Regions from separate parts of the Homo sapiens genome. Here all the other regions are reported to be linked to region 4. The links are microRNA targets in miRTarBase. Many come from high-throughput screens and were not tested one by one. Region 4 holds a microRNA gene; each other region holds the end of a gene's coding sequence.
What was found. Region 4 holds the annotated microRNA hsa-miR-6801-5p (UGGUCAGAGGCAGCAGGAAAUGA, at 1,142-1,164, opposite strand). A microRNA usually pairs through its seed, bases 2 to 8, with sites in the 3' UTR of a target mRNA and lowers its output. Matches are read on the target gene's strand: a 7mer-m8 pairs with bases 2 to 8, a 7mer-A1 pairs with bases 2 to 7 and ends in A, and an 8mer does both.

Region 1 (4,000 bases), not on the chromosome of region 4:
ATAAAAGCAAATGCTTATATATCTGTTTTACTATATGCCAAGCATGTTCTAAGTAAATTCTATACTAACTCACTTAATTCTCATACCTACCCCATGAAACACTAATATGTTTCTCTATTAGGAATAAGGAAATTGAGGCATAGAGAGACTAAGTAGCTTGTCCAAGGTCATAAAGTTAAGATTGGAACCTCGGCAGTATGGCCCCAAAGGCTGGTGCTCTCAGTCACTGGACTACACAGCAGTCCCCCTTATCAGTAGGAGATACGTTCCAAGATCCCCAGTGGATGCCTATGACTGAGGATAGTACCAAACCCTATATACACTACATTTTTTCCTATACATACACACCTATGCCAAAGTTTAATTTATAAAATAGGCACAGTAAAGAGATTAAGTGATTATAAAATAGAACAATTGTAACAATATACTGTAATAAAAATTATGTGAATGTGGTCTATCTTCACCTCTGGGAACTGAAACTGAAAAGCAAAGTGAAAGTGAAAAGCAAAAACTGCAGATAAGGAAACACTACTGCACTGCAAAGTGACGAAGCACTGAGAAAAACTAGTCCTGTCTTCCTAGCTTTAACCAGCAAGTGCCCTTCATATTTCTAAATTTAGGGAACATGCCCACTTCACAATTAGTATGCATCTTTCTTTTCTGCATCTCATTTTTCTTTTCATTCATTAGTGTAGTGTTGAAGTTATAAACAGCTTCCCCCACCACAAATAACCATTTAACAGTTGATGCCAAAAATTCAGTAGATATTTTACTAAACAAAATCAGAGTTCCAATCCTGGATCTAATGGACATACTAAAATAAGTCTTTCTTGCTTCAGAGTTATGTTCAGTTCAGTTATACTCTGAACTTCTTGGACTTGCTTTTATTTTAATAATTCCTGGCCAGGCACGGTGGCTCACACCTGTAATCCTAGCACTTTGGGAGGCCAAGACGGGCGATCACCAGAGTTTGGGACCATCCTGGCCAACATGGTGAAACCCATCTCTACTAAAAAATATAAAAACTAACCAGGCGTGGTGGCACATGCCTGTAATCCCAGCTACTCGGGAGACTGAGGCAGGAGAATCACCGGAGCCTGGGAGGTAGAGGTTGCAGTGAGCTGAGATTGCACCACTGCACTCCAGCCTGGGCAACAGAGCGAGACTCTGTCTCAAAAAAAAAAAAAAAAAATTCCTTTCTGAGTTTGTGCCAGGAGCCCATAATACACCAAGTTAAAAAGTTCATAAACATAGCTATCAAAACCTATCTTTTAAGAACATAACATTTGGGAAGTTCTCAAAGGGAATTGATGGCTTACAAGATTTGCTTCTTTTTTGGAGAAATCTACCTTGAATGGCACCAGAAGCTTGAAATCCACATTGTAAACTTTAACCCTGAAAATAGCCACTTAATTACAAATAAAAAAGATCTCCAATTTAAGAAATGTTTTTGTTTGTTTTTAGTCTTTCAGTCACTTGATAATACAACTCTAGGCTGGAATCCAGAAAACCAGTCTAATTCAGTCACTTGACAGACAAAAAAAAAAACCCCTAAGATGTAGAGGTAAAGTGACTTGCTTGGTCACACAGCTAATTCACCAGAACCAAGAGTGAAACCCAGGCTTTCTGATTCAGCTGTTTCCACACCTGGTAAAAGAACAAGGGGTTCTGCACTGCTCTGGCAATTTTTCCTAAGCACGTGTTCCCAGGTGCTGAGATGACTGTGTAGGTTGTGTGAACCTCATACAACTGGGCTGCATCTGAAGAGATGTCATTCAACCGTGGACACTGTAGATCTGTACACATTTTATGAGAATGTTCTGGCTGTTAGCAGTACAATGGGTTGTGCTCATGAAGGCAAGCAATCTTGGAGAGACCCAAGTTGCAAATCACTTCTCAGTCCCAGAGGCCGCATGACAAGAAAGAAAAAAAAAACAACAACCCCTTTTTATTTTTTATCTTAAGCTCCATTCTCCTTTGAATTAATGTTGACTTTGAAGAGAAAAAGGCAAAACACAAGCAAAGAAACAGATATTTATTTAAAAAGGAAATTCCAGGGAAAGTACCCTGCTTTACCTTAGGAGCTGCATCCGGCCAAATTACTTATAGCATCGGCATCTGCAACCATATGATCCCTGATGTTTAGAAATCGTGATCCTGAAGCCCTAAATGATCCCCAATCAAAAAGCAGTTAAGTTATATCTACCATACTGTGCTAAGAAAGTCTATTTTATCATGGTTTTCAACCAGAATTAAAATAGGAAAAAAGGGGGTTTTCTGGCTAACCAGAAAACTCTGTTCCCTGAGCATCCCAACAAACTGAGCCTGTGTAATAAAGAGACTGCTCTCTCTAAACAATCAGTCTAGCATAACTCATCAAGTATAAACCAAACCAATCACCAACCAAAGGAAAAGATCCACCCCTTCTAACTTAAAACATTGAAGATATTAAATGAGTGTTCTTCACTTTTGGAAACAATGTGAAATGTCTGTATTATACACAGTTGCAGACACATCAGAAAAAACAAATTAATTTTCTATGAAATTGCTAGCTGCTCTTTGTTTCAATTAAATATGAAAATAATAAAGACTGCTTTAGCACAGGAAGAGATAAATATGTGGTTGAACTAATACAGCAGGATGTTTCAATACTGTTAGACTGTGGGCTTTCATAATCCAGAAGGCTGGATGTTGCACGGAACACTTTCAAGTCCATCTACAGAAGGACTCAGGTTCTGCTACCATGGATAAACCTTGTAGTGACTGGTCAGAACCTCCCAATGAACAACTCAGAATCCTAGGTCTAAGTCAGGCAGCAAATGATGTATTTTGGAAGAGTAGCGGTCAAATTTACCAATTCAGTGATCTCAACATGTGACTATTCTTGAAAGAAAAAAAAGCTTGGCAACAGAAAAAACTAATAATAAAACAAGAAAGAACAATCTTTCTGGCCAGGATCCCAGTTATTTTTCAGACAAAATGTATTTATTTATTTTTTTGAGACGGAGTCTCGCTCTGTCGCCCAGGCTGGAGCACAGTCTCGGCTCACTGCAAGCTCCGCCTCCCAGGTTCACACCATTCTCCTGCCTCAGCCTCCCAAGTAGCTGGGACTACAGGCGCCTGCCACCATGCTTGGCTAATTTTTTTGTATTTTTTAGTGGAGACGGGGTTTCACTGTGTTAGCCAGGATGGTCTTGATCTCCTCGTGAGCCGCCCACCTCAGCCTCCCAAAGTGCTGGGATTACAGGCGTGAGCAACCACGCCCAGCTGTCAGACAAAATTTTTAAGAAAACAAAATTTTTTCCAGAATATTACATTACAAAAATCAATGAATAAATGAACTACACTGTAACTTTAATACTTATTCCATATGAAAAACCAAACTGTTTCTGGCAATTTGATTGATCTCTTGAGAGTCTGCAGTGCATTCATTCCATGGTTAAAACCGTGTGTAGGCATTGCGTTGCTGCTGCTGCTGTAATGGCTGCTGGGCTTGCTGCTGTTGTAAGCGAATTTGCTGGGAATAAGGGTCTTCCAGGGATTTTACAAATATGGTAGTTCTGGGACCAGTCTTCCATACTATACCATTGGCATCTTTCACAGAAGATTCCACTGTAATGTTGTGTGTTCCAAGGATAGCAAAGTTCAACAGAAATTGAGTACTGAAGTAATCATTATGAGGTTCAACCCTTTGCTCCATCTCATTGGTCATGTTGTCAATGGGTATCTGCAATGAAACAATTGTTAACTAACAACAATGGCTAACATTTCTTCAGTGCTTACTATGAGTTAGGCCCTGTTCTAAGAGCTTATTTAGACCATGCAGACAATAAAAAATTAGGTACTGCTATCATCCTTGCTTCACCGATGAGGAGTCTAAGGCAGACAGGTTAAGTAATGTCTCCAAAGTCACATGATTAGTGAACGGAGTAGGAATCTGAACACAGGCAGACTACCTCCAGGGCCTACACTCTGAACTACTAAGTGATGCTCCTCACTC
Region 2 (4,389 bases), not on the chromosome of region 4:
TACAACATCAGTTTTAACTTGTTCAGCTATTCTTTTTAAGGAGTGGCAAGATATGCCTGTTGACGATGTCATTGGTACTTTGAGTGGCTTCTTTACAATCATTGTGGGGATATTCTTGTTGCATGCCTTTAAAGACGTCAGCTTTAGTCTAGCAAGTCTGCCTGTGTCTTTTCGAAAAGACGAGAAAGCAATGAATGGCAATCTCTCTAATATGTATGAAGTTCTTAATAATAATGAAGAAAGCTTAACCTGTGGAATCGAACAACACACTGGTGAAAATGTCTCCCGAAGAAATGGAAATCTGACAGCTTTTTAAGAAAGGTGTAATTAAAGGTTAATCTGTGATTGTTATGAAGTGAATTTGAATATCATCAGAATGTGTCTGAAAAAACATTGTCCTCAAATAATGTTCTTTAAAGGCAATCTTTTTAAAGATTTCACTAATTTGGACCAAGAAATTACTTTTCTTGTATTTAAACAAACAATGGTAGCTCACTAAAATGACCTCAGCACATGACGATTTCTATTAACATTTTATTGTTGTAGAAGTATTTTACATTTTCATCCCTTCTCCAAAAGCCGAATGCACTAATGACAGTTTTAAGTCTATGAAAATGCTTTATTTTTTCATTGGTGATGAAAGTCTGAAATGTGCATTTGTCATCCCCACTCCATCAATCCCTGACCATGTAAGGCTTTTTTATTTTAAAAAAACAGAGTTATCCCAATACATTATCCTGTGATTTACCTTACCTACAAAAGTGGCTCCTGTTTGTTTGATGATGATTGGTTTTATTTTTGAAATATTTATTAAGGGAAAACTAAGTTACTGAATGAAGGAACCTCTTTCTTACAAAACAAAAAAAAGGGCAGAAATCACCCCAAGGAACGATTTCTCAGGTTGAGATGATCACCGTGAATCCGGCTTCCTCTGAGCATTCGATGGCCTTAGCACCTCATCAAGCCAGCACATCCTGCCTGCTGTTGCAGCCTGGCTGGGTTTATTCTTCAGTTACCCTAATCCCATGATGCCTGGAACCTTGATTACCGTTTTACATCAGCTCTTGTACTTTTCAGTATATTTTCATAATGAGTTATATTGTCATTTAGACTTTGAACAGCTCTGGGAAATAGAAGACTAGGGTTGTTTCTTAAATTTAGCTCATGTTATAATAAAAAGTTGAAATGAAGTTCTTATTCTAAAAGTCTGAATGCTTAGAACAAACTTAACATGTTTATAGAATATGGTCTCTTTGTACCAAGTACTTTGCTTAAGAGCTCCTTTGGGCCACTACATATTTTGGTTTCTAGAAAATGTTTGTTTATGAAGAAGTCGATGGAAAACTGCAAACATATGCAGAAAAGGTAGAATAATAAAAAAGGTCTAATGAACTCCATTCAGCTTTGAACCTATCCACTCATAACCATTGACTGGCCTTTAAAAAAAAGTATTGGCAGAATTAATTTCCACCTAGGTGATGGGAAGAAAGTGTTCGCCTGTTCCAGCCTGTGGCTCCTGCCTGGAGGTTACCCAGTGGTGCGCCAGCGCCAAGCCATCACTCCCCGAGGGCCTCCCCTGCCAATGGTGCTGGTATCCCATGCAGCTCACCACTGGCTGCGTGGAAACTCCCTTTTTTCCAACTTTATTATTGGCCTTCTAAGGAGCTGTTTTAGATGTTTTTTCTAACTGCCTCCTCCCATGCCATTTTAATACTACAGATGTACTACGTATCTGTTTATATACTGTACCTACATCTGTGCTTTGTACATAAAAGAACCAGTTTTCTCCCCCTTGAGGACAGAGACTCATTTGAACATGCATAGGTTAATAAATAATAAATTCTTATTTAACATTTTGTAGCACTTGAGATTGTCTTATACCTAAGGTATTACATATTTGGTATATAATTAAGCCTTATAAAACTTGGTAATTGATTAAGTTTTACCATAATTTTTCATCCTATTCTGTAGTTTCTAAGATAAGCACAGCTACCACCTCTAAATCTGCAGCAGAATGCTGGCCCCAGGGTTATTAATTCACATTACCAAAAGCATTTTTAGGGAACTTTTTATAAAGAAAGAATAATTGTTTGTTAGGCTTCATGTCACTTGAGTGAGTTTGGCAGTGTAACAGGATGGTTCGTACACTTACTACTTTTCTGTGCCGTGCATCATATGCTTCTGGACAGTTTCCAAAGGCCTCCGGAAAAGTAGGCGAGGCCTGCTTTTTATGGCAACTTGGCATCCATAGAAAATTTTAAAATTGGTGAAGGTTGCAATACTCCAAATAATGTAAAATGACTGCCAGGCTACAATATAAAGTGAGTTCAGTTAATCATGCTGGACTTGTGTTTATCTGTAGTATTCATCTACAATAAACAGGCATAGCATCTTTTTCCATTCAGTTAGTTAGGATTTTCAGAACCTCATTGCCTTAGTACTTTTTAAAATATGGCTTTAGTTTCTCAAACATGTTCGTGACTCTACTGGTAGTCTAGACCGATTGTTTTTCATTCTGACAGATCATGTGAACCAGCTCCAGCCATGTGAGCCCTGTGGATCGGGGACAGCTGAAGGCTGGACTCGGTGCTCCCGGTCCCTTTGTGCAGCACCCACTGGGCCTGACTGATCTCCTCCCACATTGCTGGCTTCCTCCAGGTCATGGGCACAGGTAACAGAGAGGCACTGAGTAGCCTCTTCATATCCAGATTGGAGCAGCCAACACGGCCGTTTTACACCTCATTTGCCTGCGGAACCCTAAATATAAAGCTAAACCTGTGCTGAGGTGAGCGGTATATGGGATGGTGTCACGGTCCCATCCCACCTCAGCCTTAGAGGTGACCTCCATCCCAGCTGGCCTGGTATGTGAGTTCAGGTTAGAGTTCCTTGCCAAGCCAGGCAGCACAGGGTTAGAGTAAATAAATGAACACAAATAGATCTCATTAGTTTTATTTCTATAACCTTTCGATCTGATGTCACGTTAGATTTTGTCACAACTGGATTTAGTGGAAGCAGGGGAATCAAGTTCACTATTTTCTGAAACACACAAAAAAGGGATGGGAACAATGACTTAGAACTAAGATTGCTCATAAAAGACCATCAGAAAGATCCCTAAACAAAAGCTAAATAGTTACAGTTAATGGTAACTGGCAAGGGATTTAATGCATTTGCTGGTATTAAGTTTCTTATGGAATGAATGAATGAACCCAGCAGCATTTTATGACACAGCTGCCAGAACATCCCATAGAAAAACAATTTTGTAGGAACGTGATGGCAACAATCAGCAGCCAATATTCTCAAGAGTTCCTAATTACCAAAAGCATATACAATTTTAGTCTAGAAAAATAAGTCAATTTTATAAAATTAAGTTTTTAGATCGAAAAGCACCCCCTTTAACAGGTACAGAGATACTGAAAAATAGTCCCTAAAAATCTCACTAAATAGTTTACGGAGAGAAAGGCATGCCATGTTGAGTTACGGAGTGCAGCGCGTGCCCTCAGCTGCTGGCGAGGGACTGGTGGATGGGCGGCTGGAAGCAGCGCACATGCTCCACTGGCGTGCCCTCCCCGTCGCCTGACTTCAGGTACTTATCCAGGATGGTGATGATCTCATCATTGAGAATCTGGAACTTGCGAATTCTCTCCACCATCTTCTTCAAAGGCTACAACCATCAAAGTGAGGATGTTTTACTATTAACACTTCAACATTTATTCTTCATGTTTCAAAATGTCAGGATTCTTATATTTTCTCAGAAAAATAATAGCAAACGGAATTGACACACATACTGTTCTTTTTGGGTTTTTTTTTGTAAGATAGGGTCTCACTCTGACGCCCAGGCTGGAGTGCAGTGGCATGATCACGGCTCACTGTAGCCTCAAGACATCCTCCCACCTCAGCCTCCTGAGTAGCTGGGACCACAGGCGTGTACCACCACACGCAGCTAATTTTTAAATTTAATTTTGTAAAGACAAGGTCTTATTATGCTGTCCAGGATGGTCTTGAACTCCTGAGCTCAAGCAATCCTCCTCTGCCTCAGCCTCCCAAACTGTTGGGATTACAGGTATGAGCCAGCACTCCCAGCCACATACCATCTCTTTAATGCAACAGTTGGAAGGATGAATATATTTTGAATTTAGAATCCCTCTGTTGGCTTCATGCTGCTGTAGATTCATTCATGCGCACAATTGATAGGCCTATTCCTTCCACATTGGCAATTAAGAACCTACTGTCTGCTCAAAGCTGGGGATCTCCAGATGAAGATGATGTGGTCAGTGGAGAAAGGCCAGTCAACTAACACAAGTTTTAGACTTCCAGTTTGGAAATACTGTGACGGGATACTCTGACAGACCCTCCTGCTACCACAGGAATAAAGAACACGAATTAAGAACA
Region 3 (4,327 bases), not on the chromosome of region 4:
TTTTCTCTTACCTTATTAGGTACAAATCAAGACCTACCAGCTCCTACATTCCATCTTTCAGTATCCAAATCCAGCTGTTTCCTACCCATACATTTACTCTTTAGCATCCTGTATCATGGAAAAACTGCAGGAAATAGACAAGAGAAAACCTGAAAACACTGCTGAGCTTGAGATCTTCCAAGAAGGCATAAAGGTCTTAGAAACACTGGTTACTGTTGCTGAAGAACACCATCGTAAGTGTCAGCACTAAATTCATACTCAGTCTCAACAAAAATCAGAATTTTACTGTTATTTAAATTGCAAAACAATCAGTCACATTATATCTGTATTTCACATTCATTGAAAGGTGTTATGTTAATCCCAAGTATTGATATTATTTAGTATTAATTTAGAAGAGATTGGACGAATTGTTTTCTTTAGTGGGGAAAAATGTATACAGATCAAGTGCATTTGCAGGCTTTTGTTAGAAACATTTATGTCACTGAACTTATATTATTTGTTTACTTTCTAGGCGCTCAGCTGGTGGCCTGTCTTTTGCCCATCCTCATTTCCTTCCTTTTGGATGAAAATTCTCTGGGATCAGCAACTTCCATAATGAGAAATTTACATGACTTTGCTCTACAAAATCTCATGCAAATTGGACCTCAGTATTCATCTGTTTTTAAAAGTTTAGTGGCTTCTTCTCCAGCCCTAAAAGCCCGCCTTGAGGCTGCTATAAAGGGCAATCAGGAAAGTGTCAAAGTCAAGATACCAACATCTAAATATACTAAGAGTCCTGGAAAAAACTCAAGCATCCAATTAAAGACCAGTTTCCTCTGATTTTTTTTTTGGAATAGTAAGCACCTTAATATAATAAATACTTGATCATTGCCTTTGGTGACAAAAGGGACATTGTAGACACAAGTGCCCTTAGAGGTCTAGTTGATTGTTTTACCTTAAATAGCTGTGACTCTTCAAAGTAACAGCATACTTAACATTTTTGTGTGTGTGCGTGGGGTTTGTGTTTTGTTTTGTTTTGTTTTTCTATTTAAAAAGACAATGGAGCTAACTTGCCAGGAATTTTAAGAAAGTGCTAAAGAACTAAACTTACTAAACAATCCACTGCTTTAAAAATGAAATGAATTTCTTCTAACAGTCCATACATATGTGGTATACTTAATACTGTGACAGATATAAATATGACTCTAGTGTAAATTATCTGCACTAATATTGTATCCCAATTGCTGATTTAAAATTCTGCTTTGGCCCGGCACAGTGGCTCATCCCTGTAATTCCAGCACTTTGGAAGGCCAAGGCGGGCGGATCACGAAGTCGGGAGTTTGAGACCAGCCTGACCAACATGGTGAAACCCCGTCTCTACTAAAAATACAAAAATTAGCCGGGTGTGGTGGCACACACCTGTAATCCCAGCTACTCAGGAGGCCGAGGCAGGAAAATCGCTTGAACCTGGCAGGCAGAGGTTGCAGTGAGCCAAGATTGTGCCACTGCACTCCAGCCTGGGCGACAGAGTGAGACTCCATCTAAAAAAAAAAAAAAAAAATTCTGCCTTATTCAGTAATTGTATTAAACTTTCTCTGATTTCTCCAAGAAGATAAAATGATTGGAGAGCTATTTAGGAAACCTGGTCTAGGATTATCCAGTATACAATAGTACAAATTACTTACAGCCTTACAGTGCAACATAAGATTTGGTGTCTATATCATGGTTTTCCACCATCTTTTGGTTTAGTTTATATTGGGTTCAGAAATTGAGTCTTACTCATTTTAAATAGAATAAGCCATTTCCACTATTTTTCAAATGGATTTTTCTGTTTACCTCTGTTCTTACCAATTTTGTTCATTTTCATTTGTGGCAAACATTTGTATCAATGAGTTTTAACCTAGGTTCATATCTACATTGTATTTAGATCAACTATGGGTTTATATAAATGCCAAATTTAGTACAACAAATTTAGGTCATCAGGTGAATACAAGTATTTTTTTTAACAGGAAACATTTTATTATAGAAAAAAGATTAATGATAAAGTCATATTGGTTGAAAAATATTTTTTAACTGTGTTCATGATTGTTGATTCTCCTTCTACTTCAGTGTTATACTGTGTGAATCAAGCACTGTGTCAAAACAGAGCATTTCCCTCTTAAAAATTACAAACCGAAGTGATAGAAGCATGTCAGAATTGAGAAGACATTTTGAAGCAAGAACAATGTGATGTACCTATTTTATTATGTTTGTATATAAATACTATTGTAAATTGTTCAGAGTGAAAACATTTGACAAACTCTAACACTACAATCATTTTTTCTAAATTACATAAATAAAGCTAATTTTCATTATCATTCTTGTATTTTTAAATTATTTTACCAACAAAAGATGGCAGGTTGGTTTCTCTCACATGGATTCCAGAAAATCAGCCTTTTTTCTCAGAAGAGCCCTTTCTTTGGAGCATTATTTGTGATGGTTTAGATTCTCTGTCTCTTCCTAAGTGTCTCTAGGCATTGAGTGTATATTTATTGTTCCCTTTACCTAAAATGTCCTTTTCTCTCCTGTCTTCTGTCTGGTGATTGCCCACTCCTTTTAGGCCTGGCTTAAATATCACCTTTCCTTGGTAACTCTCCTTAACACTTCTTAACTTCCTCTTACACCAATTTAACTGCTTCCTCATCTGTGTTTCCATAGTGCTTAATACATTCTTGTATGCATAAAAAATCACATTGCAATTTGTGGTTTGTTTGTTTGTTTAAGCCAAGGTCTTGTTCTGTTGCCCAGGCTGGAATGCAATGGTGTGAACACAGCTCAGTGCAGCCTTGACCTACTATGCTCAAGTGATCCTCCTGCCTCAGCCCCCCAAGTAGCAGGAACTACAGATGTGTGTCTCCAAGCCTAATTTAAAAATTTTTTTTGTAGATATGAGGTCTCACTCATATGCTGCCCAGTCTAGTCTCAAACTCCTGAGCTCAAGCTGTCCTCCCACCTTGGCCTCCCAAAGTGCTAGGATTATAGGTGTGAGCCACCACACCCAGCTCACATTGCATTTTAATATTATCTTGTCTCCCTCTTAGACTGTACCACTTCATAGGGAGAAATTATGTCTTCTGTAACTTGGCTCACTTAATAGCTATTGAATTGCACTGGTACAGGATGGATGAGGACTCATAACTTCTTTGCCAAGGCAAATGCTGAACTAGGTTGTTCTCAGGATGTAACTAATTAATTTGACTTAGGGATTTTAAAAAAGTGTTTTGTCTGTTTTAGCTGTTTCATTTAGTTTGCTCTTACACATTAAGATTTCTACTCAGTACTCTAGTATCCTGAATTATTTGGATTAAAGGTGCTTATATGAACGTCAGTAATTAGGAAAAAAACCTTTTATGTCCAGTGTAATGGAATTAGGAAATTTGAGCTACTCTTAAATGTATCTCCTTAAATCGCCTTATTTAATACAACCCTGAACTATTAAATGTATCTTTACTGATAATGAAATTAAGGCTTAACAGCTGGGGTTTGAACTCATCTTTCTGATCCCAAGCATTCATGCTGGAGACAGGAAAACTGGCAATCCCGATTCCATCAAGGTATAGCTTTTCTCCTCTTTCAGCGCTCCGGGCTCCCTCAGGAGCCTTCCTCACTCTTTGTTGAAGATATTTTCAATTACATTTCTCCAAATTACAACTAAAAAGTCTTTCGCTAATAGAATAGGGGAAAAAGTTTTTTTTTAATTATTTTCTACAGCAGTTTCTTTTTTTTTTTTTTTTTTTTTTGAGATGGAGTTTCGCTCTTGTTGCCCAGGCTGGAGTGCAATGGCCTCTGCTTCCCAGGTTCAAGTGATTCTACTGCCTCAGCCTTCCCAAGTAGCCGGGATTATAGGCATGTGCCACCACATCTGGCTAATTTTGTATTTTTAGGGGAGACGGGGTTTGTCCATGTTGGTCAGACTGGTCTTGAACTCCTGACCTCAGGTGATCCGCCCGCCTCGGCCTCCCAAAGTGCTGGGATTACAGGCATGAGCCACTGTACCTGGCCTGCCCTCTACAGTTTCTATGGGAATAGATTATATGCTTAGATATTAATGAGTCTAGTTGTAATAAAGCAGTTGCATATTAATTAGCTTGGTAACGTTACAAATTAAAAATGTTGATTAGCAACTTGGATGAAACCATCAAAATGGTATAATATTTGTCTTGAGCTTAATTTTTTTTCTAAGAGGAGAAATAGAGACAAAGCTACTAGTTAAGTCATTCTATTTAGCCCATTGCTTAAAAGCTTATGTAAAATAACACTGGATATAACACCTTTCTGTTAATAAAATATTGAGTCTAAATTTTATATA
Region 4 (4,358 bases):
GTTTTTTAAAAAACATACATTTCTCCACTGAACTGCAGAGATGCCTACTGTTAAACACATGTGGGACTGTTTCTGTACCCTTGATTCCATTCTATTGGGCGATTTAAATATGCTTGTGTTCACATCTATTTTAATTATTGTGGTGTCATAAGTCTTCGTCTCTGGTAGTGTAAATCAGACAACTTTGTTCATTAGAAGTGTCAATTTTCCACTAAAGAACCTGTTAAGATTATTGGGCTTATACTGAATCTAAAGATGAGTTCAGGGAACTGTCCCATCCGTGAATATTATGTAGGTCTGCTTTAATTTTTTTTGAGACAGTCTCGCTCTATCGCCCAGGCTGGAGTGCAGTGGCATGATCTCAGCTCACTGCAACCTCCACCTCCTGGATTCAAGCAATTCTCTTGCCTTCAGCCTCCCAAATAGCTAGGATTACAGGTGAGTGCTACCGCACCGGCTAATTTTTTGTATTTTTACTAGAGACGGGGTTTCGCCATGTTGGCCAGGCTGGTCGTGAACTCCTGACCTCAACTGATCCGCCCACCTTGGTCAGGTCTGCTTTAATTTCTCACATTAGTGTTTTACAGTTTACATTAGAGGTGTTACATACACATCTTTCATTGAATTTATTCCTGGCTATTTGATATTTTTGGTGCAATTATAAATTATACACATACTTACATATAAAACATAAGGTGATTTCATTTTCTAATGACTTGTTGCTAGTATACAGGACTGCCAACCCATCACCCCCTCTTTCTATTTCATGCTGTGATGTTCATTTTACAGTTGAGAAAACACACCTTGAGAAGGGAAGGGAGCCAAGGTCACACAGCAAGCAAGGAGCGCTGCCAGGCCTCTGACCCTGGGCTCTACCTTCAAAGGTCAAAGATTAAGGTGCCCACAAGAAGCCCCTGCCAGTGTGTGGGGGAGTATCCAGACCTCACCTGTTGTCCAGGATGGGCCCTATCTTCTGCAGAGACTTGGCCACATTGAAGCGGACATTGGCAACCGGGTCCCCAGCCATGCGCAGAACCGTGGGTAGCATGTGCTTGGTGGTGATGTCCTGCCCACAGACCTCAGACAGCACCTGGGGGCCAGTGAGTGGCAGGGGTGAGTATGCAAAGCTCCTGGCTAACTCTCATTTCCTGCTGCCTCTGACCAGGCCACTCTGGTGATCATCAGGCCCCACAGAGGCTGAGCAATACGGGTGACTCAGTTAGTGGAGTGAATCTCCCAACTCCACTAACACCATCCTAACACCATGTCCCAGTTTCTCTGTCCTCAGGCTTCCCTTAATTATTCTGGAGATCGACCTTAATTACCAAGCCCTAGGATCCCTCCTTAAAGCAATGCTCTCCAGAGAGTGGCGTGGGAAGAAATGATCAGAACACTTAGTTATATTTATTTTTAAATCCCTTCCTTTCTAGCCCTGTGTATGGTTTACACATAAATAAGTAGTACATGAGATAATTATAATCGTAGGAAAAGCAAATAGACAGGAGCACTTCCTACCTGTAGCATAACTGTTCTAAGCCCTGTGCGTGTATAACCTGATTAATCTTCACGCTCACCAGGCTGTGATTACCAGTATGAATTCTTTACAGTATGAATTATTTACAAATGAGAAGACCAAAGCATCGGTTAGGTAACTATCCAAGGTCCATAGCTAATATATGGCAGTACCAGAATTTAAAACTAGGTCTGACCTAGAGCCCATACACTCACCCAACGCACCACAGATAGAGACACACATTTCTCAGGGAAGGAGAGGGGTGCTCATAAAGCTTGAGATCGCTGCTCCAACAGGTCAAGTCTCCCAGGCCCTGGGTCCCTCACCATCCAAGTCCCCAGTCCCAGAGGCCCTATGACCCTGACCCTGGGAGCCCCACCCCCTTGCCTGCAGTTCCCCAAGGACTCATCTCTGGATAGAAGATGCACTCCATGTCTCCATTCCCAAGCCAGGTGTCTCCCTTGGGGAACCCTCTAGCATCCCTCCTCTCCCACGCGCTCCAGTTCCCTAGGGATGGGCCAGCAGGCAGGTGGAAGGCTCACATTGATGCAGAAGAGCGTAGTCATGCGGTGCAGGTAGTTGGGGTCTCCGGACATGGCCAAGACCTTGGGGATGATTGTGGCATGGGCCCACTCCTTCCCAAACTTTTCCACTAGCTTCTTCAGGTTGCTGGTGGCTGCCTCGCGGATGGCATATACTGCAGAAGGGTGAGGGTGAGAGAGACAGGGATTTGGAGGTGAAGAACTGATGTGGGCAAAATGTAGGTCACACTCACCATGGCTTACAAAGCAGCCCCTAGGTGCCAGGCTGCATGTGAGCCAAAGAGAGAAAAAAGGACTTACTATGTGCTATATCTAGTAACTGTTTTTTTTTATACAGTATCTTTTCAACCACTCCAAGAGGTAGGTTCCACTACTGGCTTCATTTTACAGATGGGCAAACTAAGGCTCTAAGAAGTGATTTGCCTAAATTATGTGGCACTTATTACTTCAAACAGGGCTTCACAGAGATAAATATTACCTTTTATTTTTTACCTCTCTTAGTGTAAACAATGAGCCATTCTCATAATGGCCCCAAGGCACCAGAATAAGAAGTTTCAAAGAATGAGTGTGGGGCTCATTCAAAGACAGCAGGTGACTTGTTTTAGATCTGACAGCCCCAAGGGCAGGATTCAAAACCCTGGTCTGGCTGCTCAGTGGCCCTCTGGCTCTCCACTATACCAGGCAACCCCTGGGTGATCTGTTTCGTCCTCCTCCCACTCAACACTTCTCTAGGACTCTAACAAGCATGCGAGCTGGTCCATACGAGCATCCAGCGGCGTGGGGAGTGACTCTAGCCTCCTCCACTGCCCGCCACAGCCCCAGCCAATCCATCCTGCCTTTCTGGAGCTCCCATCTCCTCTTGCTGCTCCTGTGAAGGTACTCACCATGATCCACAAGCCAGGCCATGCACAAGGAGTTAAGTTTCTCATCAAAGAACTCCACTCCCTACAGGAGAAACCAAGGGTTCCAAGGTAAGCGTTCCAGGAGAGCAAACAGGGGGAGCTGCTAGCCACATCCCATGGAACCTACACCCACCCTAGAAAGACCGGACACTTCTCAACTTTGTCTGAGGTGCTCCTTTCCCTCCTCTCTCTTATTGAATCCAATGCATCTTTTAAGGCCCTATTTCCTGGGTCCCTTCCTTCGACTCCCCAGGCAGTTGTCACAGCCTCCACTAAGCCTTCAAAGCCCCGTTTCCCCATCACAGCCCTGGACATACTGCACCTCCCCTGAGGCAGCACTGCCTGGCCCCCAGGCCTCCTCACTCACCAGCTGTCCAGCCAGGAGGGGCATGTACTCAATGATGGCCAGCCGCACCCGCCACTTGGCGTCCTCAGCCAGCTCCACAATGGCAGGGAGCAGGGACTGGGACAGCTGCCGGATGCCAATCACCTCGTTCACACAGTCCAGGTTAGAGATGATGTTCAGCCGTACCTCAGGGCACTGAGGAGAGGAAAGAAGGATTCTGAGAGAATGCAATGCACACAGCAACCCAGGACAGGATGGAAAGAGCTCAGCTGCATCAACTTTTATGGACATCTCCCGAGGGACTACTCCTGTCCAAGCCCAGCTCCCCGTTCTGGGAACACATTAACGGCACACAAAAAGCAAGCAGCATGGATCACTAACTTAAGCAGATTTTTAAACCTTACAATAGTATCACAAGAAATGTTTATCCATTTTGAAAAGACTTTAAGAATCACAGTAGGAAAATACAGCACCCTGGAAAAAACAGGCAGACATGATTCTTCTAATCCTAGCTCCGCTGCTTGCTAACAAGGGTTCCTTTCTGGGTATCAATCCACAACATGGGAGAAGGGAAGGAAGAAAACTATTTCCTTATTAAAACTATTTTAGTCTAAAAAAATAAATAAATAAAGGAGCACTGAAATGAATCAATAACCAAGTGAACAAGCCTGGCAGGCTTGGGCTGTTGAAACCCTGCACATTCCGAGGATAGGACTGGCCCTTGCCCAGCTCCAGCCCTTGCTGTGTGAGCCTCAAGCTGCTGAACATGTGCATGAGAAGAGAAGGCTCAGAGACTATACCTCACCCATTTAAAAAGACTTATTTTTGGTGCACCAGTAAAAAGGTAGCCTTTTTCATTTAGACAAGTTTATAAATTCTGGTGAGAGTCAAAATGTAAAATATAAAGTTTATAAATCTAAAATGGAAATCTCAAATATAAGTCAGATGAATTCCTCACACCAAGAAAACCATGCTGGTTCTTTTCTTCTAAGAGAAGCTGCCCTGAGACAGGCTGGCTGCCAGCACACGATTACCATATAGCGCTTGCTGAAGGT

Region 1: miRTarBase lists INTS7 as a target of hsa-miR-6801-5p. Seed matches in the 3' UTR shown: 8mer at 2,765-2,772.
Region 2: the mRNA of NIPA2 is a reported target of hsa-miR-6801-5p. Seed matches in the 3' UTR shown: 7mer-A1 at 682-688.
Region 3: miRTarBase lists HEATR5A as a target of hsa-miR-6801-5p. Seed matches in the 3' UTR shown: 7mer-A1 at 1,331-1,337.

What each region holds. Positions count from the first base shown.
Region 1 is chr1:211,938,385-211,942,384 of GRCh38, forward strand. It overlaps INTS7 (integrator complex subunit 7), which reads right to left. Exons shown (of 20, transcript NM_015434.4): 20 at 2,019-3,727. The coding sequence ends at 3,440. Among named protein-coding and RNA genes, the nearest start is that of INTS7, 95 kb to the right of the region's middle. RefSeq lists an enhancer at 521-600.
Region 2 is chr15:22,866,532-22,870,920 of GRCh38, forward strand. NIPA2 (NIPA magnesium transporter 2) reads left to right here. Exons shown (of 8, transcript NM_030922.7): 8 at 1-1,853. The coding sequence ends at 316. CYFIP1 (cytoplasmic FMR1 interacting protein 1) reads right to left here. Exons shown (of 31, transcript NM_014608.6): 31 at 521-3,661. The coding sequence ends at 3,497. Among named protein-coding and RNA genes, the nearest start is that of NIPA2, 30 kb to the left of the region's middle.
Region 3 is chr14:31,289,797-31,294,123 of GRCh38, reverse strand. HEATR5A (HEAT repeat containing 5A) reads left to right here. Exons shown (of 36, transcript NM_015473.4): 35 at 20-233; 36 at 512-2,336. The coding sequence ends at 819. Among named protein-coding and RNA genes, the nearest start is that of HECTD1, 84 kb to the right of the region's middle.
Region 4 is chr19:52,218,831-52,223,188 of GRCh38, reverse strand. MIR6801 (microRNA 6801) reads right to left here and starts at 1,169; the gene lies at 1,091-1,169. It overlaps PPP2R1A (protein phosphatase 2 scaffold subunit Aalpha), which reads right to left. Exons shown (of 15, transcript NM_014225.6): 10 at 3,325-3,498; 11 at 2,940-3,000; 12 at 2,056-2,210; 13 at 948-1,090. RefSeq lists an enhancer at 430-1,629.